2 linked regions of the Homo sapiens genome follow. The protein of the gene in region 1 purifies or fractionates together with the protein of each later gene. This does not show direct contact. Each region holds a gene or a part of one and is shown in the gene's direction. Other genes may lie near its edges.

Region 1 (3,945 bases):
CTTTTTTGAGGAAACAAAATGAACTCCAGGATTCACTTTATCTTATTAGTTTGTAAAAGCTTAAAAGAATTCCCCCCCAAAATGAACTCCGAATCTACTGCCAAAAGACACAAGTCAACTCTCTGTTTAGAATATGAGAACAGTGTAAAAATTAAACATTAAAAACAGTTAACTGTTACTATTCAGGAGAGATAGCTCTATGAAATGAAGAAATTTTCTAAATCTACAAAATAAAGGCAATAGCTATTGAGTAACATAAGCTTTTCATCCCATTTTATTCAATACTACAGAATTATTTTGTGCAATAGTAAAAACAGGCAAATTGAAGATACACCTTTGGAGTGCAACCAACTGACTAATTTTATCTGAAAGGATATTAGAAGTCATTCTAGTGGGTACATCTGCCAAAAAGAGGAGAAATGAGATAGCTGATAAAAATGATGATAAAAATGAAGATGTAAGCCTTTGTATAGAAAAGTCGTATAGTTAATCTGTGTAAGCAATGACAATCAAGTGCATTTTAAAAATAAACAATGCGAAATGTTATGTTTCTAATCCTGATTTCTTGTTTTAACAAATAGAAGTACTGATATGAACCTAGGTGTTGAATAACCAAGGGACTCAAGAAATTTTGAGTTCCAGGCCAGGCGTGGTGGCTCATGCCTGTAATCCCAGCAATTTGGGAGGTGGAGGCGGGAGGATCACCTGAGGTCAGGAGTTCAAGACCAGCCTGGCCAACATGGTGAAACCCCATCTCTACTAAAAATACAAGAAATTAGCCAGGCATGGTGGCTCATGCCTGTAATCCCAGCTACTTGGGAGGCTGAGACAGGAGAATTGCTTGAACCCGGGAGGTGGAGGTTGTGGTGAGCCGAGGTTGCACCACTATACTCTGGCCTGGGCAGCAAAGCAAGACTCCATCTCAAAAAATTAAAAAAGAAATTTTGAGTTCCACCTTAAGTTGCTGAGACTCTGGAGTTCCCTGTCACAGTGGGCCTTAATTTGAAGAATTCTTTGGCATGAAAATGAAAATAAAAACAGTAATCAGTACATGCTGTTTCATTTAGTTTTGTTTGCCTTTCACATTAGAGGAAATTCTTGCCACACCTCAAACCAAAATTAAGGGGAAAAGAAAGAAGTAAGCCACATAAATCTGACCAAGAACACAAGCATCTTAATTTGAATCCACAAAGTTTCATGTAATGAAAAGAAATACATAATTTTAATTCAACCCGAGTGTTTTCCAAGAAGATTGTATTTGCTTAAATTGCTACAGTAATTCAAGAGACAGCCCTGTCTGGACACAGAGTTACTGTGGATTTTTAAGAGACTCAGTTAAAGAATTTAGGAATTTCTGATTCATTTAAAGGATTTACAAATTCATCAACCCCTGAAAACTAAAGCAAATTGAACAGGTATGATAATAAAATAATTTTCAATTTTTTAAGAATGTATTCCTACTGTTAAAATTTAAAAGTATATTGGATTTTTTAATATTAAAATAGACTGCATCTATTACAAAAGCACAATTTTTGGAAGCAAAATCTGGTAAAAAAGTTATGTTAAACTTTTGATTAGGCAAAATGTTCAAATAAAGTAGTATAATGAGTTTAACTTTCTCATTTAAGATTTACCCAATAAAAAATCTTTGTTTAGATTTTTTTTTACTTTGAATGAAAGGAAAGATTCTCAGGTTAAAGGAATCAATCTCTTTCTCTTCCTTAGGTCTCTTTTTTTCTATGAATTATAAGTAACAAAGAACCAGCTAATGCCTTTGAGGCATACAGCTGAGCAATGCTAGTGATTCCGGTTGGGGGGTTGATGGGCATTTGTACAAATTTCACTCAAGATTTTCTCCAAATTTCTCTACTGACTAAATCCCTGATATAGAATGTTTTTCTTTTCATTTACTTCTTTCTCAAAGGGAAAATACAGATGCTCTATCTAGTCTATTGAAGGATCTAGTTACTTTGGGTTTTAGTTAATTACGATTTAAATGTATTATGGCTAAAAATAATTGAGGTAATTGTATTTTTAATAGCAAAAAAATTTTATAAAATTAAAATTTAGAACTTTTTTGGAAAAATCTAAATTATATGCTAATATTTGCTTTCTTATATGCTAGTTTCTATGTCATACAAATAAAAACAATTATGTCTTTAACATAATAAAATGTTGAGGATTTTACTTTAAACTTTTCCTGAACAAGTAAATTATACCTCATTAGTAATTTCAATTGAAACTTTTCTTGATGAACACGAGTGCTTTTCTCCAAGTAAGAGAAATATTATGACACAGATGGTTTTATTGCTATAATATGAAAAATTCACATTGAAAACTGGTAATATATATATATTACTTTGCTCCAAACATTCTTTTTCACATTTGTTCTTTTCCTGCTACACGATGTACTAGGAAAGTGAGGAATACAGTATATTGTGATGAAGAAATATTCAATAGAAAAAGGAACAGTCAAGCTCTCATGAATATGTTCATTTGAAGAAATTATCATAGTGAAATAAATGCCTAGGAATAATCAACATTAGTAGAGAGAAGCATTTGCTAGCAAGCCTTAACCTATAACTTATTAACTTATTCATTCAACACACCTTTGAGCACTTATAACACTGCATTGTATTAGATTCTGTTAAAAGATATTAGGAAATGAGATGATCAACAATGAATTATACAATATTGCTGTGAGTTATCCTATAGAGAACAAGGCATACATTGTAGAGTATGAAAAGCAGAAGTAACAAAAATATGCTTAGCAAATGACTCAGAAGAGATTAGTTGGGGAATGAAAAATTTGGATAAAATAAGAGATTGTTGTAACAGGGGAAATTATCCTGGGGAAAGAGCAAGAGGCATAGAAAATAATGAGCATATAGATGAAAACAGGATGGATTTCAAAACAGAAAACTGCACTTAATCAAAGGGAGTGGGACAAGATTGTACTACATGGTTAGGAACGTGGAGGGAGGAGGACAAGGATGTTTAAGATAAGTTCAGGTTTAGAAGAGAAATTGTTCCTCAAGGAAAGACTTTCTTCTTAGGTGCTCACAAAGGCGGAAAGCAGACAATATTAAAAACCTCTTTATTTTCAGAGACGCCCCAGTCATGTCTTGATTCAAGGCCTTCTTCTTTTTTCCCAACAATTTTTCATAGTTGTTGAACAACAGACTCTAATTCTCAAATGTAAGGTTGATAACTGATGATTAGCTAATGTTCTCAACAAAGGGATAAAATTCAAGCTGAGTTTTCAGCCAGGCAGGTGGCTCACACCTGTAATCTCAGCACTTTGGGAGGCTGAGGTGGGCGGATCACCTGAGGTCAGGAGTTCGAGACCAGGCTGGCCAACATGGCAAAATCCCGTCTTAACTAAAAATACAAAAAAATGTAGCCAGTCGTGGTGGTGCACGCCTGTAATCCCAGCTACTCAGGAGGCTGAGGCACAAGAATCACTTGAGCCTGGGAGGCGGAGGTTGCAGTGAGCCGAGATTGTGCCACTGCACTCCAGCCTGGGTGACAGCACGAGACTCTTGTCTCCAAAAAAAAAAAAGTTAATATGTTATACTATAATAAGTACAATAAAATATTATAAAATTATACATAAAATATCATCAATGAGTATAAAATGTATAGAATATTCTATATCCATTCCTATTAATCTCCCAAAGTCTGGGTCAAATGATGTCTACAAAAGACTTTCCTGTCTCCGTAAGGCTGAGGTAAGCCACTGGCCCCACAGCATTGCCTATCTCTGCTATAAAGGATATTACCCTCTGCCTTAGATTAGGGTTCACTTTGTTGTATCTCTCTCCTCCACTAAGCTGTTTGCTCTTTACAGAAGGGACTATGGCTTCACGTCTTCTTCATTTCTGTATTCTCCACCAACTTAGCATAGTGCCTCATCACTAGAAATAATTCAGGACAACGGTAAAC
Region 2 (4,033 bases), on another chromosome or scaffold:
AGAATATTGATAGAAGCAGTACTATTCATAATAGCCCCAAACTGGAAACTACCCAAATACCCATTAGTAGTAGAATGGACAAACAAATCATGTTTTTTTTTTTTTTTAAATCACTAATGATGAAATATTTTAAGACACAAAAGGGTATGAGAAGAAAAGTCATTCATGGAGGTTAACATATTGCTATATTTTGTCATTCTTTTAAGCTTTTTTATTTTTATTTTTTAATTTAAGAACTAGAACCTTCTGGTGGTGGTGCTTAGTGTTGGGGACAGGGTAGAGTTGGAAGAATGATCTGAGGATCCTCCTGAAACACAAGTGTGGGCTGACCTGAGCTTTCACTGCAGCTCCTCCCTTGACACTGAATGAATTACCTGTCATGGGCACCTAAACCTGCACAGCCCAGTCAGTGAGAACAGCCCCCAGAGGAACTTCTACAGCGCCACAAATGAAATAGAAAGAAGCCATGCCTCTTCACTCCCCTGTTCTCTGTAAAATAAAACACCTTGCTATAGTGTCATTTAAGGACCTAATGCCTTCTTTTGTTGAAATATTTTAAAAATTGGGTTTTCCCATCAAATTGTGATTGAGATATCATGAATGTTCTGATTGTGTTGATGTGAAAAGAGAATGAACAAGAATGGGGCTTGGTGTTTTCAGTGATTGCTGTAATTGTTAGCAGGGACATATTCTCCCTTAACTTCTACTCAGACAAGCTCAAAAGGATGAAAACAATCAAAGAGTAACATTGTTGTGGGGATAACCTTGAGTCACTTTCTTTTGTATTTGTATTTGTATTAGAAGAATCATTTGCAGGCCAGGTGCAGTAGCTTACACCTGTAATCCCAGCACCTTGGGAGGCCAAGTTGGGCAGGGATCACTGGAGCCCAGTAGTTCAAGACCAGCCTGGGCAACATGGCAAAACCCCATCTCTACAAAAAAATACAAAAAATTTAGCTGGGCATTGTGGCGCACACCTGTGGTCCCAGGTACTTGGGATGGTGAGGCGGGAGGATCACTTGAGCTGAGGAGGTCAAGGCTGCAGTGAGCCATGACCGTGCCACTGTTCTCCAGCCTAGGGGACAGGGTGAGACCCTGTCTCAAAAAGAATCATTTGCAACATCTGTTCTTTAGCTAGTATTAGCAACAATGATTAGTTTTTGTGGCTCTCCTTGTGACTGAGTGTCATGGGGCCATAGTGAGACTGGTTCCCTTTACTGAGTGCTTGCTGAGTCATTAACCTCAGTTGCTAAGGGCATAGTCATAAGTCCTGTATGCGTATTATATTTCCTCCTTGTAATAACCCAAGATATAGGTGCTGTTACTATCTGTATCCCCACATGAGAAAACAGGCTTGGGGAAAGAGGTTAAATAAGTTGCCTAGGGTCACACCGTGAACAGCAGAGCCATGATTCAAATCTCATTTTGACTGGCTCCAAAGCCTGTGTTCCTAACTAAACCACTCACTAAATGAGGACTCCTGACTGTTGTTATTTTGGTTAACAGAACCATAAAGTAGGAGTTAAGGTTCTAGTTACTGTTTGCTGAGCATTTTCCAATCTTACCTCACTTGACCTCTGTATTCTGAGTTAGGTGAGGCAGGTGGGTGTGCTCCCATTTCACAGACAAGGACTAGGAGGGTCCAGACAAGTAGTGAACTTGCCCAGGGTCACCCAGCTAATGTTGGGTTGGAAGTTGAATCGGGGTCTTTTGAAAATACACCCCATTTTTTCTTCTGTGCTTCAGCTTGATCTCTGACCACCATGGTTGACCTTTAGCCTCACATTTAATTGTAGGGTTAACTCTGTTTCCTCATCTTTTAAATAGGAGCAGCACTACCTGTCTCACTTGTTAGAGATTATAGAGGATTGGCTAGCCATGCACTTTTTAAAAATTCTTACAGAGGCCGGGTGTGGTGGCTCACTCCTGTAATCCCAGCACTTTGGGAGGCCGAGGCGGGCGGATCACAAGGTCAGGAGATCGAGACCATCCTGGCTAACAGAGTGAAACCCTGTCTCTAGTAAAAATACAAAAAATTCGCTGGGCTTGCTGGCACGTGCCTGTAGTCCCAGCTACTCGGGAAGCTGAGGCAGGAGAATCGGTTGAACCTGGGAGGCGGAGGTTGCAGTGAGCCAAGATTGCAACCCCTGCACTCCAGCCTGGGCGACAGAGCGAGACTCCATCTCAAAAAAAAAAAAAAAATTCTTATAGATATACACCATTTAAATACATATGTATTTGTTTGCTGTGAGGCTTTATGATATGAAGTAATACTTTTTTTGTTAAAGATTTATTTACATATAAGTCTTTATTTTGGTATTCTGGCAAATGTATTTGTTTGGTAATCCAAATGGAAGTTGAAGACATTGAGATTTTTGCTGCATGTACTGAGTTGATATTTTTCTAGAGTTGATGTTAGTAGCTAACATCAGCCTGTTCTGGGTTGCTTTGAGGTTGCAGCTGCTCCCTGGTGGTTACCTGTGAAAGGCGCTAACTGGAGACACCCAGAAGGGCCTGACTCTACTATTCTGCACAGGTGAGGCTGGTCCCTCTTTCCCCAGTTGACAAGTTCCATTGCAAAATAGGTACCCTTTGCTCTTGCAAAAGAACTCAGTGGGCATCTTCATCTATAAAATGATAAGAATGACAAACTGTAATTGATTGGTAGGAAAATAAGATGGTGGGAAATAACGTATGTAAAGACCCAAACACTGCACCTTGCTCATAAGAAAGCTCTTAATTAGTGGCCTCTTTCTCTCCTCATTTGGCTTGTCAAAGAGTTGCCTCTTCCCAGTTTCCCTGCTCCTTTTGAGAGGCCTATTCCAAACCTCATGACATGTTTAATCTTTACATTCTGTTTCCATTATTAGCGGGTCTATGAGGAAGAAGACGTCTGTCTTATGGATAAGTAATTGTGTCCTCCCAGGTTGCCACTGTGGAAGCCCAGGCCTTGGGTATAGGATTCACATGATCTTGAGTTCCAGATTGGAATTCTTTGAAGCCACCATCTAACTGGAAAACCACAGAGAGCCAAGTCGGTCAGCAAGTCTCCAGGGTGGCAAGGAAATAATTATCTCAAGCAAAAATAGAGTAACACTTTAAACCCTGGAGATTGAGCAAGGTTTGGGTTAGGACTCAGCATCTCAGCAGCCCAAGAAACCTGCTCTCCTAACCTAATTTTTCAGATGCAGTTTTTAAGTCTCTATTTTTAACAACATTCCTGGTTATTGCCCTTATTGTCGGGGAGCTGCGAGTATAGGAAGTTCAGCTTTAGGGATATAGCCCCTTGACAAATGTCAAACATCTTTCAAAGCCTCAATTGGAAGCCGCTGTGCTGCAATTAGGCTTCGAGGTGGAAAGTCATAGGATTCCTGGGTTTCTCAGGTGGACTTGGCTTCTTAGCTCCCAGTTAATATCTGCTTTCCTGAATTTAGTAACAGAGGAAAATGCTAAGGGAGGAAGGAAAACCCAAAAGGGGAATGTATGTTATCCATGCAGTCAACACCGATGGATCTTCTGAGAAGAGTACCTCTGTTGTCTGTGCTGGAAACAGTGACTGGCACATGATAGGTACTCAGTAGATGTTTGTTGAAAGAATAAATGAAAGGCCTGGTGTAATTACTGTGGGGAATTCAAAGGTGTATAAGGAATGGACTAGGAATTTGTAGCCCACTTTTAAAAAAGTGAGCAGGGAATTCAGCCAAAGCCATCTAGTGCTGGGTGAATGAGTCTATCCCCTTTTTCTCAGTTTTTTTTCCCCAAACTTCCACACCCTTTATACCCTCAGGAAAAAAAGACCGGCCTCTTGTAGAGGAAAAGTAGAAAGACACAGAATTGAAAGCCAAGGGTCACAGGTTGGGTTCTCTGGAAACAGAGGCTGAAACAGAGTTTAGGATGCAGAATGTTAGGGCCCCACACCTGTAGAAAGCAGGGGCCAGAGCAGGACTGGGCAGAGGGAGAAGTCAAAGCCACAATGCAGGTCCAACCAAGCTCCACCCAACACAGGGGCCTCTAGGGTGTATATGGCCCATAG

What was found.
Region 2: the proteins of OMD (region 1) and SUMF1 purify together in Homo sapiens (affinity purification with mass spectrometry; one large-scale study listed by BioGRID and IntAct). This does not show direct contact.

What each region holds. Positions count from the first base shown.
Region 1 is NC_000009.12:92,421,672-92,425,616, reverse strand, and holds the start of OMD (osteomodulin precursor), read left to right. Parts: upstream 1-1,145; 5' UTR 1,146-1,415; intron 1,416-3,945.
Region 2 is NC_000003.12:4,418,567-4,422,599, reverse strand, and holds part of SUMF1 (formylglycine-generating enzyme isoform 1 precursor), read left to right. Parts: intron 1-2,453; coding exon 2,454-2,536; intron 2,537-4,033.